Linked DNA regions of Homo sapiens: region 2 is linked to region 1. The links come from fine-mapping of genetic effects on gene expression. A gene starts in region 1. The other region holds a variant in brackets. All regions are shown on one strand. Distances are from middle to middle.

Region 1 (15,277 bases):
TGGAAAATGGAAATGGCTCATCTGCACCTGCCCTTTCTCCAGAGATTTGGCTCATCATCCTCTCCCATGACACACAGGGCCAGTCCACACTCAGAGGGAAGTCTGCAGACCATCCTTCCTTGATGCCCAAGCCCCAGCAGGATGGCGCTCCAAGTCACTGTCACTAAACTGTATATGGTGTTTTACAAACAACTATATGATTGGATATAGAATGTATTTCTGTGGTATGTGTGAATTCCAGTTGTTTGCTCTAGAACAGCACTGTTCAATAGAACATTTTGCAGTGACAAAAATATTCTATAAATCTCCATGGTCCAATACAATAGCCGCTAACCACATGGCTATTAAGGATTTAAAATCTGGAACTGGATTTTTAATTTTATTTAATTTTGATTACATAATTTTAATTTAAATAGCCACATATGTCTAGGAGCTTACCATAATGGACAGTGCAGCCCTAGAAAATAACTTCATCCATTTTGATTTTATAAGTGGAAATGGAATATAACCACCCTATGATAATGACACAATTCTGACTTAGGCGCATGAACTAATTCTCTTAATTTTTACATAAATATAATGAATGAAATTTCAACACTTCTGCTATTGATGAAAAAGTAAGGCTTTAACCTTAATTGTCTAGATTGAATATATAACTGGCCAACTGCTCACTTTGATTTTTTTTCCGTTTATTATACATCTTGCATCCCACACCTAGCCATAGATAGGTAAGATTAAATTAGTTGAAGGCCGGGCGCGGTGGCTCAAGCCTGTAATCCCAGCACTTTGGGAGGCCGAGGCAGGCGGATCACTAGGTCAGGAGATCGAGACCATCCTGGCTAACACAATGAAACCCCGTTTCTACTAAAAATACAAAAAAATTAGCCGGGCATGGTGGCAGGTGCCTGTAGTCCCAGCTACTCAGGAGGCTGAGGCAGGAGAATGGTGTGAACCCAGGAGGCGGAGCTTGCAGTGAGCCGAGATCATGCCACTGCACTCCAGCCTGGCCAACAGGGCAAGACTCCATCTCAAAAAAAAAAAAAAAAAAAAAGATTAAATTAGTCTTCCATCTTAAGAGCACATAATAGGACCTTCTAATTAGGACACAAAATTATAAAAACATAAATAAAGTAAATGCAAATAATATGAATAAACTCTCTAGGTAATTCAAAATGCTGTTTGAATCAGACTTCTGAACAACTTGGTGGCATGGCTACACTGGAGCTAAATTTGCTATTATTTGAAAATTCTGAAATCAAGTACTCTAAATGATGTGTTCTAATAAGAAATAATCACCTCTTAAGAGTATGGTAACATGTGTGATACTAAGCACAAGTAATACAAAACAGCATATAACCTGAATTTTATGTATAGTTCACGTCTGGGAGGAAATGTTCCCAATGTTTGCACCAGAATTAGAAGCAACCAGAGACTCAATTGGTCTGATTCTTATAACTATGCGGGAGCTTTTCTGAGATGCTGAATGTGCACTTCTGAACCCCCTTCCACTCACCGATCTGTGTTGATCAGCCCAGATACATACAACTAACTAGAATTTCGTCACTTTTAAACCCGCACCATTGAGTTGATGCCACATCCATGAATATGATTGATTTAGACAAGACTGAAAAACATAGCGTTTTAGATAACCGGGGGTTCAGCCAAATTCTAAGGAGAGGCTTGAGAGCACCTGCTCCTCTAGTGGCATTAATATGGCTCCTGGAGGCTGGGCATGGTGGCTCACGCCTGTAATCCTAGCACTTTGGGAGGCCAAGGTGGGCAGATCGTGAGGTCAAGAGATCAAGACTATCCTGGCCAACATGGTGAAACCCCATCTCTACTAAAAATACAAAAATTAGCTGGGCATAGTGGCATGTGCCTGTAGTCCCAGCTACTCGGGAGGCTGAGGCAGGAGAATCGCTTGAACCTGGGAGGCAGAGGTTGCAGTGGGCCGAGATTGCACCAGTGCACTCCAGCCTGGGCGACAGAGCGAGACTCCATCTCAAAAAAAAAAAAAAAAAAAATGATTCCCGGAAAAATCAACCCACTTGTTTATACAGCCTGTCTTACTTCATAGGATTCTTGTGAAAATTAAATGAGATCCTGGGAGGGTTAGATGACTACAGCAGAAAGAGCAGTCAGATGATTAAAAAAATCTGAATTTTAATCCTGAGACTTTACTTAATGTCTTTGAGTTTTAGCTTTCTTACCTGCAGAATGAAGGTAGGAATGTCGGCTCCATATATCTCACAGAGTTTCTGCAAGGATCACGAAACACTCACTCTGCATGCTTTTTTTTTTTAATTCTGAGTTTGTTATAGGCACAGAGATTTCTGAATTTCTGGTCACTGTTTTTTAGATTCATTTACTTTTATCTAGTCCCTTAGTCACCAGTTGCACATATCTACAAAATGATTGGCTGGGATTAGTGGCGTGGTCTATGAAGGTGAAATTGAGTGAAACAAGAAGAACCATAAAAGGCCCCAAATCCGTGGCCTTGACTTCATTAAGCAAGCGCAATATTCATCTGTGCGATCCATCTTCAGTGAAATGCAGCCTCCTGACCTTTTGCCAGCTTAGCCCCGCTGTCAGCAGCTGGGGGGCCCTGCCACAGGGCTGGGGAGGGAGCCCCGGGTTGCCCACATTGCAGATCATCTCAGGAATATTCAAGAGGGACTGTAAAATAAACCCCCAGTCTTGTAATTTTATTTCAAAAAGCAAAAATTCTCCCAGATAATGAGCATTTTGCTCTAATAAGAACTGTAGGATTGATTAGGTTCAAACTGTTAACAGACATCCTTATGGTTAATGAAGCAGCACTGAAAATGCCTCTGGATTTTTTTGAAACTTAAATCATACAAAAGCAAGCAAAGAACTGGAGGTAGGGTGGAATAAACTGTCTGTTAGTTAATATACTCAAAATAATGGACCCAAAATGTTCTTTGAAAAGTTAATATGTATCAAGAGTTATTTCCCCAATGGGCAAGCAATAAACTTTGATGATTATTGTTGAAACATTCTTTGGATAACATATTTTTCTGTGAATCTTGAGTGGGGGACTGAAGCTTCTGCCATTTTAATTCCTTTGTTAATGTCTTTATGAATGCAATTAACACTTCATTCACGCTTCTTTGTTTCTGGATCCCATTAGGATGTGGTTTATGCCAGTTTCTCTCTCCCAGGAGACAGCCCGCATCACACAACATTTCACTCAGCTGTGTCGCTGAGCACTGACAAACTCAATTTACGAAAGGCAAGAGTGAGTTGACACCATGCTGTGGCAGTTGTCCTGATGGGAGGAAACGACTCATTTCCTTCCAAGGTAGAATCCACCTTCTCTGAGAAGCATGCTTGTGCACAAGAGTACTGAAGACAAGGAGGTAAGGAAAGCCTCTTGGCTGACACAAAGTAAAATCCCTGCAGTTGAAGAAATGCTAAAAATCAAATTTGGTTCCTGGTCTTTAAAGAAAAAACAGCTATCGCTTGCCCTGTAGGCACAACAGGCTGCTATTATCTTTATCAAACATTTAGTAAGAGCTAACTAGGTACAAAGTAAGGGAGAAGCCCAGAAGCAGAGGAAATGGTCTCTCTTTTCTGGAGCTTACAATGTAAATAAGAGGCAACAGATAAACATGACAAATACATAAGCCGGGGTGAAAGGCAACACAGCTAAGTCCTGAATGAGAAGCACAGACCAAAAGAACACTAGGAGTTCAGAAGTCTGTGATGGGGAATTTGGGGAAAGCTTTTCTGGGGAGGTGAGAATTAAATAAAAGCAGTTCCCCCAGCCATTCAATGATTGAACTCACCAGTAAAGAGGGAGAGAATAGGAGGAATTGCAGAGAGGGAAAGAGAGGCAAGCATTAGCTAAGATGCAAAGGTCCAAAATGAATAAGAAGGTTTTTGTTCATGATACATTATTTTCCCTTTATATTAAAGTCTCTCCTCCAATTGATGGCATCATTTCTATTTCAAATATCACTGTGCTATTTGCTTAACAGCCAAAGGCACTGCAAATGAATATATCTGAATCTTACTAGGAACTGTACAGAAGAAGATGCAGGAGGTCTGAAGGGAAGTCAGAGACAAAAGAAGGAAGGAAGCAAGCAAGCACTGCTCATGGTTTGGCATTATATTTTTTCTTTAAATGAAAAAAAAATCACCTATAGATAGGCCTTGTACCTGTGCTATAATTTTAAGTTCGGTTTTCTCTGACAAACACAAAAAAAGGGGAGAATTTCTAGTAAGTGTTATGAAGCATAACATATTACCAGAAAAGGAAGTAAAGCAGCTTATAGCCCAAGTCATCTGTGCCTAATATTAAAGGCGTTTTAATATGCCAAGGATGGTATTCCTTATGTAATTTTAACATTATTTAATGGTATGATAATTGGTTGTTTTCTTATTTCTGAGTTACTCCAGAAATCTAGCCCTTTTCCCATTAGCTATATATCCTTATTACCAAGATCTTCCTCACGTCTCTTTCCACCAGATCTGGGCTGTCAACGCCATCATATTCTATTAGAGTAAGGCCTGGATGTATTTCTGCCAGACTGGCCAGCCCCTAGGCATTAAAGCATTACAGACCACAGTCATGCCTAAGCACTTTTTGCATTAAGAATAAGGGTCATTTTGTTTACATTTTATCATATGAAGCTGCTCTTTGTGGGAAAAATGGCTTCCTATATTACAAATGCTTGGCCAAAGAACAACTAACATTAACATTAACACTGATTCTAATCAAAAGTGAAAGTGTTGGTAATTTTATGAAGGTTATTTCTTTCCCTAAAGCAAATAGCTGTCAATTGTCACTTTTAGAACTACCATGATTTATTGGAAGAATAACAACTCAGTAGAATTACTGAATTAATTCCCAAACATTTAAAGGGAAAAGAAAAAAAAATGATAAAAGGGATGGTCTGTATGGAGCAGGGAGGGGAAGGGATGGTTCTGAGGCTAAAAAACAAAAAAACAAAAAACCCTTTACTTCTGTCCTTGTGCATTTTTTTAAATAGAAAAAAGCCACTCTGCATTCCCTGGCCTCAAGCCACTAGGTCACTATGTAAAACATAAACAGGGTCTGTGTTTTGCTGCATTTGAGAAAGATGTAAAGGTGTAAATATGATGGAAGGGGTTTTATTTCCTTTCCCCTCTCAGGAATGGTCTGACAGCCCCAGGCTCGAGAATGTGTCTCTCCCAAGTACTCTGTCACCCTGGTAACCATGGAGACCATGACGATCGATTAGATGCCATCTGATCTCAACCTTATAAAAAAAAAGGCAGCAGATGGCAACCAGGCCACTAGACCTGTCTCAAGAGAGACGAAGAGGAAGAGCGAGAAAGAAAAGGAAGGAGGGAGAAAGGGGAGGAGGTGGGGGTGGGTTGGCGCAGGGAGAAGAGAGCCCAGAAGCAGCTCTGGAAATGAAAATTTTAGAAAAGAATGAAAATAGAAAACAAGGAAAGCAATGGAAAAAAAGAAACTAAAACCCATTGTGTGATAGACCTCTACAGTGAGTTGTGGGAAGATAATTCTACAGAGAAAGCGAATCAGCTGTCTCCTAACTTTCCACTTTTATACAGAATGGTGTGGAACCCGGGCCCCAAGGCTTCTCTGAGGGATACGCACCAAGTTGGCTCTCAGAATCGGTTGGACTTTGATGCATCCAAAAGAGAATTCTGAGACCTGGTTCTCAGAATAAATGTCCCTAATCAGATGAGACCTTTCAGGGGACTGTATGCATCAATACCTGGTATGTTTGTCAGCCCATCCCCAGCAGTGTTCTAATACTCCTTAAAGGAAGAAGCGATAACCAGGTCAGTAGATACCTAAGGTGAAAAGAAGACAAGAGCAGTTAAGTCAATTCTGGTAACCTAGGGGTCTTAGCCAGTGTCCCAGAGTAATGTAATGGCTAATATTGATGAAGTGTTTATGATATGTCAGACACTGCTAAGCACTACATACAGAATATTTAATTTAATCCAGATAACAATACCATAAGTTAGGTGCAATAATTATTCCCATTTTACAGAGAGGACCTGAGGCTTAGAGAGGTTAACTACCTTCATCAAGGGCATACCTAGAATGCAATATGTAAATGTTCAGAACAGCTTACTTATATAGAGAGTTGATTTGCTCACTCTTGTTCTTTCTTTTTCAATCCCCTCCCCTACCTTTTTTTTTGAGATGGACTTTCACTCTGTCACCCAGCCTGGAGTGCAGTAGTGCAAACTCAGCTTACTGCAACCTTCGCCTCCTGGGTTCAGGTGATTCTTCTGCCTCAGCCTCTGGAGTAGTTGAGATTACAGGTGTGCACCACCACATCTGGCTAATTTTTGTATTTTTAGTAGAGACAGGGTTTCACCATGTTGCCCAGGCTGGTCTCGAACTCCCAACCTCAGATGATCCACCCACCTTGGCCTCCCAAAGTGCTGAGATTACAGGCATGAGCCACCGCGCCTGGCCTTCTCCTCCTTTTTATTTATTTATTTTCATTTTTTATTTTTTGAGATGGTGTCTTGCTGCATCAGTCAGGCTGGTCTCAAACTCCTGGGCTCAAGTGAGCCTCTGCCTCAGCCTCCCTAGTAGCTGGGACTATAGGCATGCACTACCACACCTAGCATTTTTCCCTTTTACATTTTATTTCAGATTTTTGCAGATTACAAAACAGGACATGTCCAATATAGAAAACTGCTTAAAACAAGAGAAAGAAAGGGAAAATTATCTACAATCCCATTAGTCAGAGATACGTGTGATAAGCATGTGGATTATGTAATATACATATATATATATAGAGAGAGAGAGAGGGAGACAGACATGTATATTTTAAGCAAATATAGTATTAAATCTTAAATACTGTTTGGTTAACCTACTTTTTTTTGGAACATTATATTATGAAAAACTTTCCATATTTTTGACTCTTCTATTTTATCTGATTTAATGATTATAGCATTCTACTATCTGATGTATCATAATTTTATTTAACTACTTCCTTATTATTGGATTGTATTTCCAGATTTTTGCTACTATAAATAATGCTATGGTGATCATTCTTGTATGTAAACCTTTTTTGTACTCCTCTGACTTTTTTCTTTAGAATGAAAACATACTTGCTAAGTCAAAGTGTATGTTTTCTCAAAACTTCTAAATTGAGGTATAGCATATATACAACAAAGTGAATAAATCTCAAGTGTACTGCGATTTGAATTCTACAAGTGTATAGACAATGGGTACAACCACCACCCAGATCAATGGATTAAACATTTTCCAGAATGCTTTTCATGCCTCTTCCCAGTCAATAGCTATCCCCTGTTCTTGAACTTCATATAAATGGAATCATAGAGTGTGTATTCTTTGGTTTCTGGCTTCCTTCACTCAACATAATGTCTGTGAGATTCATCCATGCTGTGGAGTATAGCAGTAATTCATTCTTTTTATTGCTTCATAGTATCCTTTAAAAAAAAAACTACAATTTATTGATTTATTTTTTTCTGATAGACATTTAGGCTATTCTGAATAAAGCTGTTATGTATATTCTTATACATGTCTTTTGGATGACATATTTATACTTCAAAAAATATAAACTAGGAGAGGCATAACTAAATCATAGAGTAAGGCATACTTTCAGCTTTAAATGCAGAGTAAACATTTTTAAAGTTTTATTTTGCTTTTGGAGAGGGGGCCTACTTTTAAATTGATCTCCAAAACAGCTGTACCAATTTGAACTCCAACTATCCAATGTCATGAGTGTACCCTTCCCCTTCCCGCCTTACCACCAGCTAGTGGGCATTTTCATTCTTCTTAATCTTTGCCAGTGTGAGAAACAAAATGGTATCTCATTGTTTATATTGTGTTTGATGACCAAGAAAATGTTAAAAAATTCTTGCTATGTTACCAGATATTCTTGTTTCTTCTTTTGTAAATTGCCCATATACATCATTGCCCTATTTGCTATTAGCTTTAAGATAAGGCAAAAAGCTTAAATATAATCCATATAGTATGTATAGATCCATTGGCATTGTAAGAAAAATTCATTGGTATTTATAACCAAAAAATATTTACATTCTTTCCATAAGTTGACATCCTGCTCTATATATTTCAGAACGAAGTTAACATTTACAGAACACCAATTACTGAGCACATTTACTCTTTAAAACAGCCCTATTTATTTCATTCTTACAATTTCATTTAACTTCAGAGGTAGCATTTAGTTTTCATGAAAAACTCTAAAGGTATTTAATATTCTGCCTATTTTTACAAGTGCAGAAATCAAAGCTCACGGGGCTCAGGGTCACAAATGATTAAGTGGTGGGACTGGGATTTAAACCCAAGACACCTCAAGTCAAAAGTAAATTATTTTTCTCTTTTCTGTAGATGCCATTGCCTAGGTCAGTGCTCTGGCCTATCATCTGAATGTTTGTATCCTCCTAAAATGTATATGTTGAAATCCTCACCGCCATAGGTGATGCTGTTAGGAACTGGGGGCCCTTGGGAGGTGACTGAGTCTCGTGAAGGCAGGCCATCATGAATGATCAGTGTCCTTATGAGAGCTGCCCCCCAAATTTCCCTCACCTCTTCCACTATGTGAGGACACAGCAAGAAGGCACCATTTTTGAACAAGGAAGTTAGCCCTTACCAGACACCAAATCTGCTAGCACCTTGATCTTGGGCTTCCCAGACTCCAGAAATGTGAGAAATAACATTTCTATTACTTGTAAGTCACTCAGGTATGGTATTTTGTTACAGCTACCCGAACAGACTAAGATAAGCAGTGATTCTCTTTTTTTTTCCCCCACATTTCAAACCCTAAGAGGGCATCTGAATTCTAGAACCCCATCCTTAACTCCCTTCCATTCTCAACACACATCTACCATTCCACTACCAAAGTCCAAAGAGTATCAGGATCTCTGGGCTATCAAGAAGATGGAGAATATGAAAAAAATCCATGTTAGCTCATTTATTTTAGAAACTTTTCTTTGTGTGTGGTGTGTTTTAAAATCTGAGTAATGGTTTAATAAATCCAGAAGTAGAATAAGTAGAAGCAGAAGTGAATCTAGGATCTTTTCCTCTTGATAAGTTACTCCTTTTGGGGTCTGAAGCTTACATAATTTTAGAGGCTTTTTAAAAGAAAAAGATGACAAGAATATTTATACAAAATTAGGTTTGAGTGTTGATTTAAAGTGAGAAAAGAAATTGCTATCAATTACACATTTTAAAAATATTTAACTGCCACAAGAATCACAAAATTAAAAATATATATATATACATGGTACTTAATTGCCCTGACACCCCTATATAATTATGCCTTCATTTTTTGGCTCTATATATTCTTGGGTCACGACTTCATATAACAAAGATTTTTGTAGTATTTTCTATCAAGAGGGTACATATAAAGATAGATTAGTCTTTCCAGTAGCATGGTTGATCAAATTTGTTTTTCATTAAGAATTTGGAAAAGTTTCTGTGAGCTTCATAACTCATTATTTGTACTATCACATAAATGCTTGGGATCACAGTTTTAGGAAATTTCCATCAAATTTTTGTCATATGTGAACTCTAAGATTTCAGAGTATCTCTAATTTGTTTTCGTTGTTGTTACTGTTCAATGACTAATCTTTTTTTCTCTTTGAATTTAATGAATTTACATAAAAAAATTAGGTAGTCATTTTGCATTTAAGGAATAAAAATCTTTAAAAAAATACAAAGAATGGAAGGATTTTAGCCAAGTTTACACTTCTTTTTGCTATAATTTGTAACAATTCAGCTCATCATAACTTAATGCAATGTGCAAATGCAGCACGTATTACGATCACTTAACTAAATTTAAGGAAGTACATTGTTAATAGTGGCCCTCAGAGGAAATAGATTTATCTTCTTGTAAAAACTCCATGGTATATAAACATTACATAATAATGCTACTTAACCACCTCTTGTCTCAAGAATCATTACCCGGCGAGGTGCGGTGGCTCATGCCTGTAATCCCAGCACTTTGGGAGGCTGAGGCGGGCAGATCACGAGGTCAGGAGTTCGAGACCAGCCTGACCAACATGGTGAAACCCCGTCTCTACTAAAAATACAAAAATTAGCCAAGTGTGGTTGCGGGTGCCTGTAATCCCAGCTACTTGGGAGGTTGAGGCAGGAGAATCACTTGAACCCGGGAGGTGGAGGTTGCAGCCGAGATCCAGCCTGGGCAACAGAGCAAGACTCTGGTCTCAAAAAAGAAAAAAACAAAAACAAAACAAAAAAACCACAAATGCTTTAATAGTTTTAAAGCAAAAGCTGTTAGAGTCTAGATAGCTAAAACTATACTTGTGAGTTCAAGCTTACAGATAAGTAGCTCTTAATAAAATATATTTTGATATATGTAGTTCTTTTTTTTTTTTTTTTTTTTTTTTTGAGACAGTCTCGCCCTGTCACCCAGGCTGGAGTGCAGTGACATGATCTCGGCTCACTGCAAGCTCCGCCTCCTGGGTTCACACCCATTCTCCCGCCTCAGCCTCCCAAGTAGCTGGGACTACGGGCGCCCGCCACCACACCCAGTTAATTTTTTTGTATTTTTAGGAGAGACAGGGTTTCACTGTGTTAGCCAGGATGGCCTCGATCTCCTAACCTTGTGATCCGCCTGCCTCAGCCTTCCAAAGTGCTGGGATTACAGGTGTGAGCCACCGTGCCCAGCAAGTAGTTCTTTTAAGTAGTTCTTAATAAAATATCCTTCCTCCCCATGCCCCTACCCTAAATCTTATATTGTTCTTATAAAACTTTGGTCAAGAGTAAAAATATATCCAGGCAGATGTATATGTCATACAATAGCAAGAACAGTAAAGCCCAACTAATGACTTTAAAATATAAGACAATTATAATGTACTCAAAGGTACATAAAAAAAAGCTTTCATGGGGGTAATATTGAAACAGTCACAAAGGTTAAGAAAATAGTGATGTCACCTGGGCACCGTGGCTCACGCCTGTAATCCCAGCACTTCGGGAGGCTGAGGCCGGCAGATCACCTGAGTTCGGGAGTTTGATACCAGCCTGACCAACATGGAGAAACCCCATCTTTACTAAAAATACAAAATTAGTTGGGCGTGGTGGCACATGCCTGTAATCCCAGCTACTAGGGAGGCTGAGGCAGGAGAATTGCTTGAACCTGGGAGGCAGAGGTTGCAGTGAGCCGAGATTGCACCATTGCACTCCAGCCTGCGTAACAAGAGTGAAACTCCATCTCAAAAAAAAAAAAAAAAAAAAAAAAAAAAAAAAGAAAAGAAAATAGTGATATCAAAGTACAAATGGCTGCAATGTTAAAATAGACAAAAGCTACTATGCAAGAGCTTCTTTTAAAATGAAAAATATAGAACACAACACATGAGTCGGTGATTTTCCTGTTCTACTCATGAATTTTAGGTTGGTTAGGTTGACATTTAGAAGAGTTTCTTATCACATCTGATGGTGTCATTCCAACTTCGTAGGGTGGGTCTTCCCCAAGGAACCTCTAATCTTGGTTATTGTACAATTTCAAAGTAGTGCAATATCGCCATGATGTGCTGGGTCATGAAGATGTATCCTGCGTATCAATGGAAACCAGCGTGGAATTGAGCACCTTCCGCTCCTCGGGCTCCAGCATGTAGAGCATTGTGACCAGCAGGTGTTGGTAGTAGAACCAGGACATCTACTTCCAGGCCCGCACCAGCTCCATCCCTGCCAGGCGCCTCCTGCGATGAGGTGGCATTTCAGTCTCTCAATGACTAATCTTAAATATGCTATGAATTGATGGCATTCACTATTAACTAATTTGTGATCTATGTCCTCCTTCTAATGGTGTATTATGGTTTATATTATCTTTGTCAATATAAACATTCCTGTCTAATTATAAATTTAAATATTTTACAAATATATTCGTATAACTCATTCTTTTTTATTGATTAGATCATTAAATAATATAAAAGCCTATTTATTATTTCTATTGGCAATTTATCTCTTCCTCTTAATGATTTACTAATTTTGAATTTTTTTTTTTGAGACGGAGTCTCACTCTGTCGCCCAGGCTGGAGTGCAATGGCGCAATCTCGGCTCACTGCAACCTCTGCCTCCCAAGTTCAAGCGATCCTCCTGAGTAGCTGGAATTACAGGCACGGCACCACGCTCAGCTAACTTTTGTATTTTTAGTAGAGATGAGGTTTCACCATGTTGGTCAGGCTGGTCTCAAACTCCTGGCCTCGTGATCCATCCCCCTCAGCCTCCCAAAGTGCTGGGATTAGAGGCGTGAACCACTGTGCCCGGCTGGAAATGATACTTTTTTAAAAAAATATTTTTTAGAGACAGGGTCTCATTCTGTTGCCCAGGCTGGAGAGCAGTGGCAAAATCATAGCTCACTCCATCTTCAAATTCACAGGTTCAAGTGATCCTCCTGTCTCAGCCTCCTGAGTAGCTGAGACTACAGGCACACACCACCGTGCCAGGCTAATTTTGAAATTTTTGGTAGAGATAGGGTCTCACTATGTTGTGCAGGCTGGTCTCAAACTCCTGGCCTCGGCCTCCCAAAGTGTAAGAATTACAGGCATGAGCCACCACACCCAACTGTTTTTTGTTACAGTTTACTGCTAGATATCAGAATTATTTCTATTGACTTTATATGTAAATCTATGAAAAATAGTTTTATTGTATAGTACAAAAACACAATCATGTACACTGCATCTGCATGTGCATTCCCAATAGGAGAGAACTTCCTTTCAATTAGGTGTCAATAGAAACTAAATCCTCTGCTACAATTGATTGGAAAGAATTTTCCACAGACCAGCTTCTGGTTCCAATCCATTTCAAACCTTGCATTTCCTCTACTAGGGTCTCGGATGTATTCATATTGTGATTTAACCTTTAGATATGCCCCTTTATGTTATGACACCAGGTGAGTTTCCACAGTGGGCTGTTGGTATCTTCCTGAAAGCCATTCCTGTAACAGCATTCAGCCCAAAAGAACGTATCTCCAATTCTACTTGCCTTAGCTGCCCCCCCTCCCCAGAATGTCTGCAGCCCCTTGGATGCCACCTGATATAAGGAGAAGTTGGAGTACAAAGAGACAACAGTCTCACCTATTGTGACTACAAAATCCCACTTGTACAAGTTTTGCCAAAACATATGGCAAGTAAATACACTGCTAGGGTTCCTCCTATCAATTTGAGGTGCAGTGAAGCTTGAGCTTTATGATAAATTCACCTCTGGAGTTTGGGGAGGGAATTACTATTTGGAGAACAAGAGACAGGTGGGCCAATGGAGAGTGAAGATGCAATCTGGTTCTGCTGCATGGCTCAAATACTGTGATTCTCTATCCTTAGAATGTCAGAGTCTTCCAACTCCTTGACACGGGATCTAGTGTGGGAACTCAATCAGGGCCTGTCTTAGACTAAATGAAGTAAGAAAAAATATAATCTTTCCCATCTTTTGTTCATTTTCTTGCCCCTTTCACTTCTTTAGGGTTCACTTTTCCTTTTATCTCTTTCAGTCATATAGTGCTCTGTGGAGATTTTCCTTCCTTCCTATAAAAGTTTGCTCTTGGTAAAGGCTCAGATATTTGCCATTCATTCATTCACAAATGTTTATTTTGCATATACAAAAGACTAGGCACCATTTTAGGCACTTAGTCCTTTACTAGGGATAAAGCAGTGAAAAGGACAAAAATATCTCTGCCTCACAAAGGTTATAGTCTGGAGATATTGAGACAGAAAGTAAACAAACGTTCACATTAGCATGGCCAAGTTTTTAGTACCATATTAGTGCTCCTGTGGAAATTTGCATTTGAGGTCATTTACCTCTTGTTAAAGGAGTGTCTTTATTCCAGAGTTAACATAATTTCAGTCAGCAGGCATTTGGGGAAGTATTTCAGATGGGGAAAGGACATTTTCCCAATTCCTTGGAGCTTTCCATTTTTATTTATGTACAAAACTGGTCTTGGTGTACACAAATTAGGCTGACCATCCTCCAGCCCATGCCGCTCCATTTGAAACTGTATTCTTATTGTTAGAACCTCTAGAACAGTCTCTGGTCTCTTGACCAGGGCATCTTGAGGACTGTTTTAAACTGTACCCCATGTCGTATCTACTTATTCTCTTCAAAAGGTCACATGCTAAGTTTAAGTATGACCATGGTAGATCTCTGTTTCTAATAATTTAGATCATTTTTCTTGGTCTTATTCAAACTACCCCATATGATGACAGTCTCTTAGGCTTAGTGCTCAACAGTTTCATAATATAGTCACTCACACTTTAGAGGAAGTCCTCTTACTTCTATTACAATACAGTTGATCATCTTTTCACCCATTTGTCAATATTACATTCTTTTTTTATAAAGGCAGTGTTTAAAATTTTCATTATTAGCACTATGTAGAAGTTCTTCGTTGTTGACAACTTGTATGAGTTACGATTTCTTTATGTGTATGCAACAGAAAATTCAAACTGGCTTCTAAAATAAGATAATAGATGGCTCACAAAGCTGAAGTCCAGAGGTATTTCAGGCTTTCAGGTTGATGGAGTCACGTACTGCGGCCCCATTTCCCGGTAGTTCTCTTAGCTCATCCATTTCCCAACTCACAGCTTCATCCTCAGCCAGGCAGCTGTAGTAGATGGCCTCACATCTGTGGATAGCAATGTTCAGAGACTGTTCCCATGGCTGTCCCTGATGAACAAGGAAATTTTCCCCAGAGGCTCCTAGAATACCTTTCCTTTTGCCTCATTGGCCCAAAGTATCACATATCACATGATCATTTCTGTTCTTTTTTTTTTTTATTCACATGATCATTTCTCAACCAACCACTGACAAAGCACTGAGATGACCAAATCAGGCCTCCCCTGGAATACAGTCTAGGTGGGAAGAAGGGCTCGGGACAGATTCTCCTGAGGCACATGGGCTTCCTGGGGGAGGAAAATGACAGACATAATCAGACTCCTCATAAGAAGGAGTAATGGAAACAGATCCTATGTATCCTTTTACTTCAGTAGTCATGTCATTCTAGTTGCCTCAGTGATATTTTGTTAGTTTCTGAACTTATTTCTCCAGCCTGCAGGTAATAAGACAAGTCTCATGCCAATCAATAACCATAAAAAAGAAGTTAAAATTATGTTCAGTATCTTCTGCCTAAGAAAATGAGCCTGAATGTAGTATGTAGGTGACTAAATAAATAATTTGTTTAAGCTAAGGGAGTTAAATTTTAGTTACTGAAAACATTCCACAGGACTTAGCTGCCAAACTTCCCACTGAAAGGCCTGAGTGATTTTACTGAGTATACTTTCCATA
Region 2 (15,277 bases), 56 kb before region 1:
TGAGGCTGGTTTACAGTTAACTTTTTTTTGCAAGTAGAAGGAGTACACTCTAAAATAACAATTAAAAATATAGCACAGGAAATACTAGGCAATAGGAATTTTTCAGCTCCATTATGATCTTATGGGCCCAGTGTCGCATATGTGATTATTGACAGAAACATTGTTATGTGGGGCATGACTGTATATCCAAAGCTGTAAATACAAGGTGGATTGTGATGAATGCTATATTAGCCATACTGGGAATGAAGTTCATGAGAGCACAAAGAATGGAGATGTGAATTCCACCTAGGAGAATCAGGAAAAGGTTGTTAATATGATACTTGAGCAGGTAGTAAAGGCTGCTAAGGAGTTAATGAAAACAAAACTCAGGAAAAGAAATTATTTGGTAAAGCAATAGCCCAATCAGAGTCAGGAAAGTAAAGAATATATCTTTACATAACTGGGAAGAATTATATGGCTAGCTCAGCTTTTCCCTAACTTCAGTCATCTGAGTACCCCTTGCTAGTTTTCACATGCCCATTTTCTGTCTGCTAGTATTTACTCAATAGTCTTCTTTAAAATCAATTCAAATGTTTTAATTTTAGTAAATTAACATAAAATAGAATTTTATATCAATTCAGACATCACTTGGCAGGTGGAACTACAAAAATATGCACAATGTTAGAATGCCAAGTGTTAGCTAGTATGTTTTTATTTAAGGTGGGCCACAGGAGACATTTTCAGGCTAGATTTGGGAGAGGGGTGAAAGTGAAAGAGCAGCTGTTTTTGCATTTTATGCCCAGGTTGGGGCAGGTGCCTTAGTGCCTCACATAGCTTACCACTTATGTGCTGGTCCACCTCATTGGCGTGGCACAGTCACGAGGCTGCAACCACTCCACCTTCCCATGGATCCTCCTTCAGCTGCTCTGACTCCTTGCCCAGGTACATGTTTAATTCTATGATGAAAGGCAGCCACTTCATCAAGGTTGGAGGCAGGGAGAATGACACAGATTCCAGTCACTTCTGATGGGCTCCAGATCATATCTTCCCTTCTCGACTGCCTGTCCTGCAGACTTCAAGCTCCAACATCACACACGAAGACAACAGCCTTACAGGGCCTGCTGAACGAGCTCCCGCAACAGTATACAGTCAAATCTCCATAATGAATGATGCATCGATTATACATATATAATCTTACATAAACACACATACACACACATGTGCGCGTGCACACACACACACACATCTCCATCCTAGGGGTCCTGCTTCTCCAGTAGAACTATGACTGACACAACATTAAACAAATAAGGCAAAATATCTGCATTTATTAAATCTGGAAGCAAGTACATGTGCGTTTGTCATATTACTCTCTGTATTTTTCCATCAGAAATGTCTCATAATTTTAAAAGAAGTTTTAAAAGAAAATGAATAAATACAATAAAACAGAATAATATTAAGTTCCAACTAGATAATGTTTTCTACTGAAGCTCCTCTAATTCTTTCATGCTAGCTCATTCCCTTTGTTAAAACAGAAATATTTGGAAATGTTTTTAGAAGTGCTAACACCAAATGAGACTTTCTCCTTAGATAAACACAACTAAAGAAGGCTCCAGAAGGGCATAACTCTATCACTTATTAAGAGTTAATGCTATTTAATACAATTTCCATATATCTACCATGCAGGCTATTCTGCAGAGAATGCAGAAAGAGATAGGATTAGAAATAACTGATGGATTACATAGAATCAAAAACAAAAGTGAAAAGATATCCCTAGCAAGAGGGCAGAAACATGTCTTCCTCTTGGACATGTTCCCTAACAGAGAAGGTATTTAAGATAGGTGAGGATGAAAAAAACTTTTGAAGTAAAAGGAAACGATGTTTAGAAAATTTACACCAGCTAACCTCTATTTTATCCATGAAGTTGGGACAAAAAGCATCTAGGTAGAACTATATGAATGGAATCAGGAGAAGTCTGGGCTTGAGAAGACTGATAAACAATCAACTGGCAAGAAGTAAAGGTCAGAACAGAAGAAAGAACCAATACCATGGGCTGCGTGGGTTTGTGAACTTGAAAAAGAGGAAGCATAACATATGCAACACAAGAGAACTGAATAGCAAATTATACTATGGCCATATATTGAAATACCATGCTACAGCCACTAAAAAATATGTAGTTGTTCCTTTACATGCATAGCAACGCATTCACAACATTGCTGAGAGACAAAATGCAGTTATGATACACATTTCTGCAAAAAAGATGGATATACAATATTTATATAATAAAGAGTCTGGAAGGCTATACACCAAAATGTGAGCATGCTTTACTTTAGGGTGGTAGAATCACTAGTGATTTGTATTAATTTCTATATTTTCTCTTTTTTCTACAATCACCATATGCCATTTGTTGAGTACTATATGATGTCCCATGAAGGCAGATATCAATTTGCATGAGTGTTTGGTCAAAGAAGTCAGAGAGGAGAGTCCCGAGCTGTGTGCATCTTTGGATTTGAGAGTCTTTTTCTTCTAAGGCAACCTCTAATTGTGGTTATGAACCAAGCTGGTATTCTGAAACCTAGGGTCAACACTGCCCCAAGGCCAATTAATTGTTGGGCATTGGGAAACTCTGAGAAATCCTAAACTTGCAAAACAAATTAAACTTTCGTGATCCAGCCATTTCCAAGTGCACAGTAGAGACTGATGGGTCATTTGCCTAATAACAATTGCCTAATAATGCCATCTTGCAGCAGAGTAGCACAACATTCAAGCCTAGTGTTCTTTCTGCCATATTCACATTGCCTGTCCTCGTGACTTTAATGACTATTTTTGTGCTATCTTGGAAGATAATACCTTCACTGTCAAGGCACAAGTCAAACAGCCAGGGATGGCCTTGGAAGGCATTCGGCTGGGGGTTTGGGTGCTGCAGAGGTATCAGTCTAGTTGCTTTCCATGGAATGTCCTAATTCTTGAGACATCCAGGCTCAAAGGAGCTCCTTAACCCTTCTGGAGGCCTCCTGTATCTCTACAGCCTCCCTGGAGGAAAATCTGTCTAATAGATCAACAACTTTATCTGCTTTACACTAGGGGGCAGTGTCTGTCTATGGACAACAACAGTTTTCCTGAGGGTGTGGGGGCCAGTGTGGGTTTGGTTTCTTTGACCAAACCACTGTGTTTGTCTCTTTGCCCCACCCACCTAAACTGGTGAAAGGCAAAAGTTCCCAGATCACCATAAACCCTCAGGAGACCCAACCTCCAGGCCACTGTGTGAGGGCTAATTGAAATAAAATTTGACAGTAGGAGCTGCATAAAACTTGCTCAAACTGACAGAGAGCCCTGGTAAATGGCCACATGTTTTGGACTCATGAAAGGGTCTTAGTAAGACCATAGGTTCTCATCATGGCTGAAGCCTCAGTGATGGTGAGAACATCCTGGGGATGACAGTTAGTCTTTTATAACTGAACAAGAGCTTCACTAATGCTTATGGTGTGAACTTCATCACTTGCTTATGCCAGGGAGGTTAGAAGAACCAGCTATGATCTCAGCCATATCTCATCAGACCTAAGAATTTCCTGTGGAGGGACATGGTGCCACGTATAAGCAGATAGGGAAGGTAAGCTGTGATAGCATTCTACATGAAGTTTAACAAAACAGGCTGAATAAAACTCACTCTACCCCACCCTCCTGTGTTTAAAGGACCACAATTCACAGCCATAATTGATCAAAGGAATATTGATTTTTAAAAAAGAATGAACCATTATTCTCATACAGCAAACTATAGTATTCTCTCTTAGATATGCATATCTTCTTCCCTTTACCATCTTTTCACTTAAAAATATTTAATATGGAAAAGCAAAAAATAAGATTCATGAAACTACTATCACAATTAACAAATGATAACAGATGCAATCTCCTTTGTACCCTCCCCTAAGCCCACCCCTTCCCTTCCTTCCCAAGAGGCAACCAATCTCATGAATTGGGTGTGGATCTTTCTACTCCATGTTCTTATATTTCTATACTGTTTATATATATTTATGAAACAAATATAGCATTGGTTTGTGTGTTTTTAAAATTTGTATTAAGAATATGTGTCACATAGTATACACTGTTCTGCTTTTTTTTCACTTAACATTGTGTTTTAGAAATTCCTCCATATAGTCATATATAGATCTAGTTCATTTATTTCAGACGTTGTATTCTATTAAATTTATACCACATCTTATCCAGTCTTGTTTTGAAAGTCAGGTGGTTCTAACTTTTGTTATAATAGACAGTGTTGCAGTAAACATCTTACACATATCTCCCTATGCACGTGCTCAAGGGACAATGTGGGATGTGTACCTAGGAGTTCAATGCTAGGTTTTAATTCTACTAGATGGTGCCAAATTGTTCTCTAAATGGGGTATAGTTTCTATTTATCATTTCATCACACTTGTACTGTTAGATTGTTTAATGTTTGCTAATATAGCAAGTGTGAAATGGTATTTCATATCCATTTTAATATGCCTGTCCCAGATGACCACTGAAGTTAAAACATCTTTTCGTGTGTTGACTATTACAGTTTCCTCTTCTGCAATCATTCTACTTTCTAAAATGCTGAGAAAAGCTATTTATTGCATGGATAATATTAATGCACTGGTCATTCCAGGATCTAAAAAATAAGGTTATTAAGTATATATATATACTTAATATATATATAAAAATAATGCATTCCTGAACACCAGAATCTAAGATGAGATTCATAGCACAGCATCACAATTTTGCTGGTGAATGCTTGTTATAGATTACATGTTCCTGATAGTAAATGGGGGCTTTAAATTCTGTGCAAATTATAATATAATGTACGATTCATGATTTTGAGGAAAATGACAAAGCAGGAGCCTCTGGCTTAGAACAAAGAAGTAACGTCCATTTTCATTGCATGTCTAAAGGAATCAAGAAACAATGAATTGTATTCCAACCCTCCTCCTCCAGAGAGCCTAGACAACAAGCAAACACATACACAAACACAAAATAGTGACGATGGCAGCAACTCGGAATCACCATCAGAAGAGAAACAGTAATATGCTAAATAGAATTATTCCTATTTAAATATCGCAGATAGCTCTGATCCTAGGGAGAGCAAGTACATTTTGATGGTAAGAATGTTTCTAACTGTAAAGCTTATTGTTTATTCATAAGTCAACCATTTTTACATAGGCAATCTTTTTCCCTTCACTTTTTGTTTATGTACATTAATACCACATATCACCATTTTCAGGGCATTTGCATCTTACGCTGAGGAAAAATCTGCAAAATCTGCATCTGTTCTTTAGTTATCTCAAAGTTGAATGCTATTGAGATTCCAAAAATTGTGTTTGCAAGGAGTATGAGGGCAAGTCTCCTAGCCAAAGGAAACTGGATAGTGAAGTAACTTTTGATGATCTACATGATGGTACCAATAATTCAAGAAAACAGTTAACCAAAAACCCTTTAGAATTGGCTTTGCTATGTGGTTTTGTCCTCTTAGTTTGAACATAGATGTGTTTGGGGTAAAGGGAAAATCATTTTTAAAAATAATAATAATGGTCCCAGAAGAAGGAAAATGTTAAAAGGCCTGTAAAATTTCCACCTCTGTCCTTCTGGTTTTGTGCCTCTCAGCTGGGGTTAATCATTATCAAATCGCAGATGGGGAGAAGGCTCCCACTGAAGCAGAGGCTCCCTCTCTCTGGCCTTGTTGCTGTGTTGTTGGTCTGCCCCTTCCTTGGGCAATGGTACGAAAACTCCTTTGATTTTAAAAGCAGAAAAACCCCCTTTCATTTAAGGCAACTGTGTAAAAAGGGCTTCTTACTCTGCTGGGGGAAGCAAAACCTCATCCCCAAGAATGATGAAATCACCTGTGATACAACTGAGCAATGGGACTCCACAGTACTCCCACTCCACAGACCAGCTGCCGTAATACAAAACATCTCCAACAACAGACTTGGTAGAGAGGTCTTTGGGGATATCCACTCTCATACCCAGGGTAGCTCTGGGTGGCTCTACAACCCCCTGGATCATGTATCTCAATGGGGTAACTGAGTCCTTAAAAACACGTAGCATGTGAAGGATTCACTTTTGCCTAGGCTGGCATCTCCTCCACTGGTATAAGCACAGCTACAGGGCATCTTCCCACCCACATCTATAAGATAAACAATCAGTCACTCATCCCCAACACTCTAAGACCTGGTCCTTGTACCGCAAATACTGACCATAAATCATCCAAGGTTTAGTGAACGGTCATAGGCATGGGCTTGGAACTTTTTGATAGCAAACTCTAACTAACTGGGTCAACCATAAATAAAAGTAAGTTAGAGAAACTTAACAGGTCCTAAACCGAGAACACTGGCCTTTTTAGAACCTCACTCTACTGAAGACAAACTTACTCCAAGTTAGTGGATACTTGGCTAGGCAAATAAGAAAATGATAACAGGAAGTGAAGGGTAGGGATAGAGGGATGGGGAGCTGGGATTGTTCAAGAAAGGATGTATGTTCCTGGAATTCATGGCTGGAACAGAAAAAAAGGGTTTTCTCAAAGAAACTGTTATAAATAAAGATCAGGCATCATGGTTGCAATTCTTCTTTCTCGGTATTAAATACTCTTATCATTTAGCTTGAACGTTTTTTCTCCCTGGGGAAAGCTTGTTTAAAGCTAAAACAACGAGCTTAAAAGAACTTCAGAATACCACATATTCGTGAGCTGAGAACTGTTCGGCTAGAAAAAGAACTGACTCCATCATTTGAACCGTTTCTGGCTGATGATGAAATCAACTGAACTTCCAAACATTTTAATCAATAAGTCAACCCCTACCTTCCCCCATCTTCCTGTTGAGCCACTGTCTTATGCAAGCTTTAAGCAACTTGTGGACTGGTGGCTATATCCATGACCACTCTGTACTTCCTGCAGAATAACTATCATCACATGCTAACTAAATTACTTAACTGTCTGCCTGCCCCACCCGCAGCCACTGGAATGCAAGCTCCTGAGGGCAGTCAATGATTTGTCCACCATGGCATCCCTATGTTCAGCACATCCTAGCCCGTATTAAACCTGATGACTGAAGGAAAGAGTAAAATGGCTGGCTCACAGCAAATACTAAGAAAGGATTTGTGAATGAAATGCCTCTGGCATATTGAGAGAAGCGACTAATGTCAAATGAGCCATTTAAGTTGGTGAAGGACTAATCCTTGCCTGGCGCAGTTAATCTGTAGTGACCTTTCGCATATGGAATCGATATTTTGAGGCTGGGGTGTACAAGTAGGTTCTGAGAATTCTTTATAATGAAGAAGTGATTCCATTTGATAACCACACATGGTAGAT[G/A]GCACTATTCGGCTCACGGGAGTCTCAGCCCAAGGCTGGCGCAGGGCCGAATGAGCCAGCAGAACTTAAACCAGAGGGAAATAAATCCTATGCTTTGAAAGCCCCTAGAAGAGTAAGCCCCCTCAAGCCCAGGAAAAGAGGCAGAGGACACCCGGCGCAGAGGGAGGCGATCCTAGACACAACCTTTTGTCTGCAGATTATCAAGACTGTGTCCTAGATTCCAAGGTGACAGTGCCACAGGTAGGGTAACAATTCCCTTCATATTTGCAGCGTGTTATAGGCAACAGCGTAGGGCAGGTAACACAATTTTGCATCCCTCCTTAACCAGCATAGCGGCTGAGAAACCTCCCCCAACACGCTCCTTCCACCACTCAAGGTGGCGGGGTGGAGGGCCCAGCAGAACCCAAGAGGCTCTGAGGCCGGCCGGCGACCTTGACGCTGCCGGCCGGGCCCAGGCCACCGCGCGGCGCCTCGCCCCTGCCCCACCCCGACGCTCGCCACACCTCGGTGTTTGCAGAGCCTCGGCCTCGGCCCCGGCCCCGGCGGTCTGGGAGCGGACGCCTAGCCCTGCGCCGGGCGGCCCTGAAGAGGGAAATGCGGCTGCGGGGCCGCGGGGACTTACCTGCAGCAGCACGGCCAGCAGGAAGCACAAGTACATCTGGTAGATGCCCATCTCCCCCACCGCCTGGAACGCCTCCTCCACCTCCATGGCGGGCCGCGCGCAGGAACCCCGCCACCCCACCGCCCTCTCAGGCGCTGCCCTCCCGCCCAGCGCGGCAACCCCTGGGCGCCCGGCACCGGCTTGGACCCGCCGGGGCGGGGATGGAAGCGCTGGCGGCGGGGCCGGGGCGGGCCGGGCCGGGGCGGGGCGCCTGCGCGGGCGGCGGGGCTGTCAGGCTCGAGAGGTGGACGCCGGGCGGGGAGCGGGGAGCGCAGCCGGGCTACGCGGGGCGAGGGGCGAGGAGGGCGTTCGAGATCCGGGGCTGGATGCCCTGGACCCGGGCCTCTGGACTTCCTGTTTAAAAAAAAAATGGTGTTTTGGTGTACGTTTTGTTTTGAGAGGGACCGCTGTCTGCGCCTTAAAGTGAGGAAAGAGGAAGTGGGCCGGGCTGAGGGCCTGAGAAGAAACATCGGGACCGCGTCCGCGTGTGACCCAGGGCTCTGCCTACAGGGGACCCGCAGCTGGCGGGCGGCCTGGCGGCTCTCAGCAATGCCTGTCGTTTTGCCCAAACCAGTTTAATGCGGGGGCTTGGGGAGCCCTAGAGCCTTCAGAGAAAAGTGCTGTCTGTGCAGCATTTCTTTCCAGTCCTATTCTGTGCTAGCCATGGGTTAAGTACACTGGTAGGCAAGCAAATTCTTGTAAAACCGTCGGATACATTTGCTTATAGAAGTATGCACGAGGTACAAAGGAAGTGCAAAAGACGAAGGGGCAGGATGTGATGGCTGCCAAGGTATTTAAAGGATAAACGGCAGTTTGTCAGGTGGAAATTAAAAAAAAAAAGCGTGGCAGGGCCAAGGGACGCTGGACACCTGCGTTAGTCCCCTCATGCCTCCACCTCCTAACCTCATTTGCCTTTTTGTTTATTATGTGTTGTCTTTTTAACAGCTGCATAGTATTCCATTGTCTAGACCATGACTTCTAGTTTAACATTGAATAGAAATGGCGACCAGCTAGTGTCCTTGACCTGCCAGTATCCTTCTTATGCTTCCAAAATTTTCCGTTAATTGTGATGTCTGTTGCAGCGTATTGGTAGCTAGGCTTTACTGGTCAGCTGCTTTCTTTTTTTAGCAATTAAATGAATGCTCACTGTAATTGAATTTATCAGTGGGTTGGAAACTGTAAACTCTATAAACTCTTAAGATTTTTTTCTCTCTCTTACTTAAGGAAACGTTTTCTGTATAAGTACTATTAATAGTTTAAAAAGTTTCCTTCTTTGGCTGTTTCCTACGAATCCTCATTATTAATAAATGCTGAAGTTTAATAAGTGCTTTTTGCATTTATTGACATGATCCTATTGTTTTTCTTCTTGAATCTGATAATCGGGTACATTATGGTAATAGTTTTTTTGATATTGAACTTTACTGGAATAAATCCTATTAATACTTGCTCACGATATTGCTATTTATTGCCAAATTTAATTTGCTAGTGTTTTGTCTAGGGACTTTACATCTGTGACTAGCGAACTAGGCCTATAATTTTCTTTTCTTCCTGATGCTTATGTCTAGATTTGGCAGTAAGATTTTATAGTGCTTTCATAACATGAGTGTGAGTGTTTGGTAAAACTCTCCTGCAACCATCTAGACTTAGCTTGTTTTGCAGGGGGAGCCTCTTTATTACAGATTTATAGATAATGGGTAAAGATAAATAGGTGTGTATAACTAGATATATTCGTATGTCTTTGCATTTCTTCTTGAACCACTTTTTTTCTAGAAATGTTTCTATTTTATCTAGTTTAGAAATTGTTTTTGGAATAAACTAGTTCATATTGTTTTCTTGGGATTTTTAAAAATAAGGGTCTAACTGTTTATGTCCCATTTTTCATTCTGAATAGTGTTCATCTTTATTGTTCCAATCTTATCAGTCTTGCCAGAGGTTTGTCTACTTTATTATTTTTTAAAAAGTTTTGTGAATTTTTTTATTTCATTGATTATATGAATTCTTTCCTTTTTTTTTTTTTACTTTTGTTACTTTGTAATTCTTTTACTAGCCACATGACTTGAAGTTTAGCTTCTTTGCTTTTAATATTTCTTTTTGAAGAATAATTATGTGTGGCTGGGCTCAGTGGCTCACGCCTGTAATCCCAGCACTTTGGGAGGCCAAAGCTGGTGGATCACCTGAGGTTAGGAGTTCAAGTCCAGCCTGGCAAACATGGTGAAACTCCGTCTCTACTAAAAATACAAAAATTAGCCGGACGTGGTGGCACAGGCCTATAGTCCCAGCTACTCAGGAGGCTGAGGCAGGAGAATCACTTGAACCTGGGAGAAGGAGGTTGCAGTGAGCTGAGATTGTGCCATTACACTCCAACCTGGGCAACAGAGCAAGACTCTGTCTCAGAAATAAATAAATAAATAAAATAATTATATTTAAGGTTGTACTTACCTTTCTATAGGACTTTGCTCCATCCGACAAGTTTTGTCATGTGGTACTTTTGTTGTCTTTACTTTTAAATATTTCATGACATTGTCATTTCTTCTTTAACCAATGAGCTATTTTTAGTGCATTTTTTGTTTCCAATTAAAGGTTGCTATTTTTTTTACCATCTTTTTAGTGTTGTTTATAATTTATATGCTTTGTAGACAGAGATTATATTAAATCTTGGAAATTGTTTTAATTTTTTGTGACCTAATATGTGATTTTTCTCTTTTTATTCTTTTTTTTTTTTTTTTGACAGTATCTTTCTCTGTCACCCAGGCTGCAGTGCAGTGGCTTGATCACATCTCACTGCAGCCTTAATCTCCCCAGCTCAGGTGATCCTTCCACCTCAGCCTCCCAGGTAGGTAGAACTATAGGCAGACACCACCATGGCTCATTTTTATTTTTTGTAGAAATGGGGTTTTGCCATGTTGCACAAGTTGATCTCAAACTCCTGACCTCAAGTGATCCACCCGCCTCAGCCTCTCAGAGTGCTGGGATTACAGGTGTAAGTCACCATGCCCAGCCCGTAGCCTTTTTTTTTTTTCAATGTTCCACGTGTATTGAAATAACATATATTCTCCACTTGTTGTGTGCAAGATTCTCTAACTATTAATCAAACTTGTTGATCTAATTTTATTTAAGTAGTCTATATTATTACTTAATTTTTCTGTGCTGAATGTATCAGTTTTTAATATATCAAAATTTTCCAAAATTAATATCATTTTTGAGTTTATCAAGTTCTCTTTTTGTCTCTGTGTGCTCATAAAGGTACTAGTTGAATCTTTTTTATCGTGATGAAATAGCTCTTTTTAGTGCTTTTGGTCTTTTTTACTTTGTCTCATATCAATATTGTTGCATCACCTTTTCTGTTGTTTGTATTTTCCTTGTAATCTTTTTATTCTTATATAGTCTTTTTATGTTCATCCTGTAAGTTTCTTTCTGCTTAAGGCATATGTCTTAGTCTATTTTGGCTCCTATAACAAAATACCTTAGACTGGGTAATTCATAAACAACAGAAATTTATTGCTCACAGTTCTGGAGGCTGGGCAGTCTAAAATCAAGGCACCGGTAGATTTGGTGTCTGATGAAGGACTGCTTTCTGCTTCAAAGATGTCACCTTCTTGTCGCATCTTTACAGTAGGAGGACAAGAGAGCTCTCCAGAGTCTTTTATGGGAGCATTAATCCCATTCATGAGGATGGAGCCCTCATGATTTAATCACTTCTCAAGGGCCCTACTTTTTAATACTATCACATTTGGTATTAGGTTCCAACACTAATTTAGGGGGACACTGCTGTCATTTGAATGTTTCCCCTCCAAAATTCAGATGTTCTCAATGCAAGAGTATTGGGAGGTGTGCAGTGACCCTAGCCAGTGAGAAGTGAAGTGGGGACTGCTGCTAGCAAAGCAACCAGACAGGGTTTCCCTGTTGGGTTTTAGACTTACTTAGGACCTGTTACCCCTTTCTTCTTTCCTATTTCTCCCTTTTGGAATAGCAGTGTCTATCCTATGCCTGTACACTATTGTTTTGATAGCACATAACTTGTTTGATTTCACAAGTTTACAGCTGGGGAGGAATTTGCCTCAGGATGAACCATGCATTGGTTCCCATATCTCTGGACTTTAGACTTTATAAAGTTGATGCTGGAATGAGCTAAGATTTTAGGGGCTATTGACATGAAATAAATGTATTTTTGTGTGAGAAGGACATGAATTTGGGTGAGGGGGCAGGGGCAGAATGCTATGGTTTGAATATGTTTCCCTCCAGAATTCAGACATTTCCAATGCAACAGTATTGGGAAGTGTGGCCTTTGGGAAGTAAATTACTCATGAGGGTTCTGCCCTCATAAATGGGATTAGGTGCCCTTATAAAATGGCATGACAAGGGAATTTGTCCCGTTTGCCCTTCCACCTTCTGCCATGTGAGGATATAATGTTCCTCCTCTTTGGACAGTGCAGCCCTCACCAGACAACAAACCTGCTAGCACCTTAATCTTAGGCTTCCCAGCCTCTAGAACTGTAATAAACAAATTTATTTTCTTTATAAATGACCAAGTCAGTGATATTCGGTCAGAGTAGCACAGATAGACTAAGACAGACACTAACATTCAGACCATAGCAGCATGTTTATGAAAGGAGGACTTCTTTTTTCCATCCAGGTTGATAGTGTCTATCTTTTATTTATTTTATTTATTTATTTTTATTTTATTTATTTATTTATTTAATTTATTTATTTATTTATTTATTTATTTATTTATTTTTTGAGACCGAGTCTCACTCTGTCACCAGGCTGGAGTGCAGTGGCACGATCTCGGCTTACTGCAACCTCCAACTCCCTGGTTCAAGTGATTCTCCTGCCTCAGCCTCCTGAGTAGCTGGAATTACTGGCACACGCCACCACGCTCAGCTAACGTTTGTATTTTTAATAGAGACGGGGTTTCACCATGTTGGCCAGGATGGTCTCAATCTCCTGACCTCATGATCCACCTGCCTTGGCCTCCCAAAGTGCTAGGATTAGAGGCGTGAGCCACCACGCCCGGCCATCTTTGTCTTGTAATAGATGAGTTAAATCCGTTTGTATTTATTGGGAGCGGTATATCAGAAATTATTTCTACCAACTTATTTTGTTTTCTGTTTATCATCTTCTTTTTCCTTTATGGCCAACTGTTAGATTGTTAAAGCTATTTTTATACCGCCTTTCTCTCTTTTGCTTTTTTGAAGAGCTACAGATTATTATTATTTTGATAGCTATTCCTACATTTTTAACATCCACAGAACTATGCACTTTTCCACAGTGTTTATATTATATAAGATATATATCTCCTTTTCAAAGTGGATAAAAACGTACACAAGATCCCAAGGGTACTGTATCTGAGAAAACTTAGAAGGACCTAAAGATGTTGTGTTCTGGAAAACTTTGTTAGTTGACCCAAGAAGAGACGATCATGATGCCAAAAACACTGATGTAGAAGATTCATGTGAAGTTTTACTTTCATTGTTAAGCAAAATTATCCTAAACTTGGAAATAATAAGACAGCAAGAAGAGGTGGGTGTGGTTTTTTGTTTGTTTGTTTGTTTGTTTTCTTGAGATGGAGTCTCGGTCTGTCACCCAGGCTGGAGTGCAGTGGTGCCATCTTGGCTCACTGCAACCTCCGCCTCCCAGGTTCAAGCGATTCTCATGCCTCAACCTCCCAAGTAGCTGGGATTACAGGCACATGCCACCATGCCTGGCTAATTTTTTATTTTTAGTAGAGACCATGTTGACCAGGCTGGTCTCAAACTCCTGACCTCAGGTGATGCGCCTGCCTCGGCCTCCCAAAGTGCTGGGATTACAGGCGTGAGCCACTGTGCCCAGCCGTGGGTGTGTTTTTTAATGCAGTAATGGAGCATTGTTTAACAGATCTGCCCCCAGGATTATTTAATGCTGTAGGAGAATGCTCCTGCATTTGACTTTACTATTTACTCTATTAATAAGAGCTCAGGCACTGTGCAGTGAGTTGTCAACTTACAGATTTTTTTAGTATGTGGTAGAGATGTAAGTGATTATCTTCAGTTAGAAGGATAATCTATGATTTCATTACCCTGTGGGACATTAACGGGTTTTGTATCTAATCTAACAATCCTGTTCTAGCATTCTTTTTTGTGTGTAAATAATAATTTCTTCAAATGCTCTTAGAACCAGTTTATCATCCTGCTGGTTCCCTCATCAATTATTGAAGGCAATAAAAGCTTTGACATAGATTAATTCTATATTGGTAAGAGAGTCATGTTTTTAACTTTTGAGGATTTTTCTTTGACATCATGATGCATTTGAGTGAAAAAATATATAAATTAATATTTTATATGACATACAATTAACAAATTAAGTGTTAATTAGATATTAGATTAGTTCGTCTTACTCCCTAAAAATATATGTTTTTAAGTGGGTCAAAAACTCTTCTACATATTCAGTGTTTATTTACCTTGTATTGGGATCTATATGCCAGAAGTAATTGATGATTGTGAGAACAGAAAATGCAATCTGAAATGACGTCTGATGAATTGACAGAGACCAGGAAGGGGCTGGAACTTTTTCCTACAGGTGATGGGAACCACTGAAGTGTTTTAAGTCGGAGTGATGTGAGTTTTAAAAGATGATTTGGCAGCAGCGGAAAATGCATATAACACCAGTTAGACATTATTGTAATGGCCCAAACAGGACCCAATGAGGGCTTAAAACAGAACAATGATAACAGGAATGGAAAAATGAAGTCAAATTTAAGGTAAAAATCAGCAAAATTGACATTTTGCAGGTGCAAAAAAGGGAGAAATCATGAACAACTCCCATGTTTAGTCATTGTAGCCAGACTTGGGGAGTGGAGGTGCTATTAACTGAGACAGGGAACACAGAAGTTGAATTAGGTTTGTGGTGGCAGGTTGAGGAGCCTACAACAAGAACGGTGGGGCTGACAGGCATTGCTCCTTTAAATGGTCATTGCCCCTTTAAGATTCTGCCCTTCCCCCTTAACCCACCCAGGCCCCTGCTGGATTTCCTTGCCCTAATTTACAGTCAGCACCAAAGCTTCTGAGCATGCGCTCAAGGAAGAGCTGGACTAATTAAAGCTCTCCTGAGGTTCAAGGTATTGCATCTGTGGCTCTTAGCAAAGAGTTCCATTTTTGAGAGCATATTTTCTCCAGCTTACCATTTTTTCTCATTTTTCTTTTTAAATCTTTTTCCTCCATAACTTTATATTATCTGTATCTTTTTAATCACTGAAGAATAATTAACATCTAGGTTTTTTCTTTTAATAATAAAAAATTAAAATAATGTTTTCAATACAGCGTCTATCA

Direction of the effects. Positions count from the first base shown, and alleles are read on the strand shown. Sizes are in standard deviations (SD) of each study's normalised expression.
As copies of G replace A in region 2, the expression in prefrontal cortex of the gene that starts at base 8,817 in region 1 goes up (moderate effect, 0.58 SD a copy in CommonMind).

The links. PIP is the estimated chance that this variant, and not a neighbour inherited with it, causes the effect.
Region 2: its variant is fine-mapped to the expression of LINC01649 in prefrontal cortex (CommonMind, PIP 0.95).

Annotation. Positions count from the first base shown.
Region 1 is chr1:115,912,916-115,928,192 of GRCh38, reverse strand. LINC01649 (long intergenic non-protein coding RNA 1649) reads right to left here and starts at 8,817. Exons shown (of 3, transcript NR_125969.1): 1 at 8,634-8,817; 2 at 5,748-5,826; 3 at 2,285-3,417. It overlaps LOC101928977 (a long non-coding RNA gene), which reads left to right. Exons shown (of 5, transcript NR_125970.1): 3 at 3,183-3,380; 4 at 4,041-4,122; 5 at 5,581-5,620. It also overlaps the pseudogene LOC101928952. RefSeq lists an enhancer at 1-65.
Region 2 is chr1:115,969,372-115,984,648 of GRCh38, reverse strand. SLC22A15 (solute carrier family 22 member 15) reads right to left here and starts at 8,136. Exons shown (of 12, transcript NM_018420.3): 1 at 7,935-8,136. The coding sequence starts at 8,021. LOC101928977 (a long non-coding RNA gene) reads left to right here and starts at 7,373. Exons shown (of 5, transcript NR_125970.1): 1 at 7,373-7,552. RefSeq lists silencers at 7,750-7,999, 8,060-8,289. The variant G/A (reference allele first, on the strand shown) is at 7,313.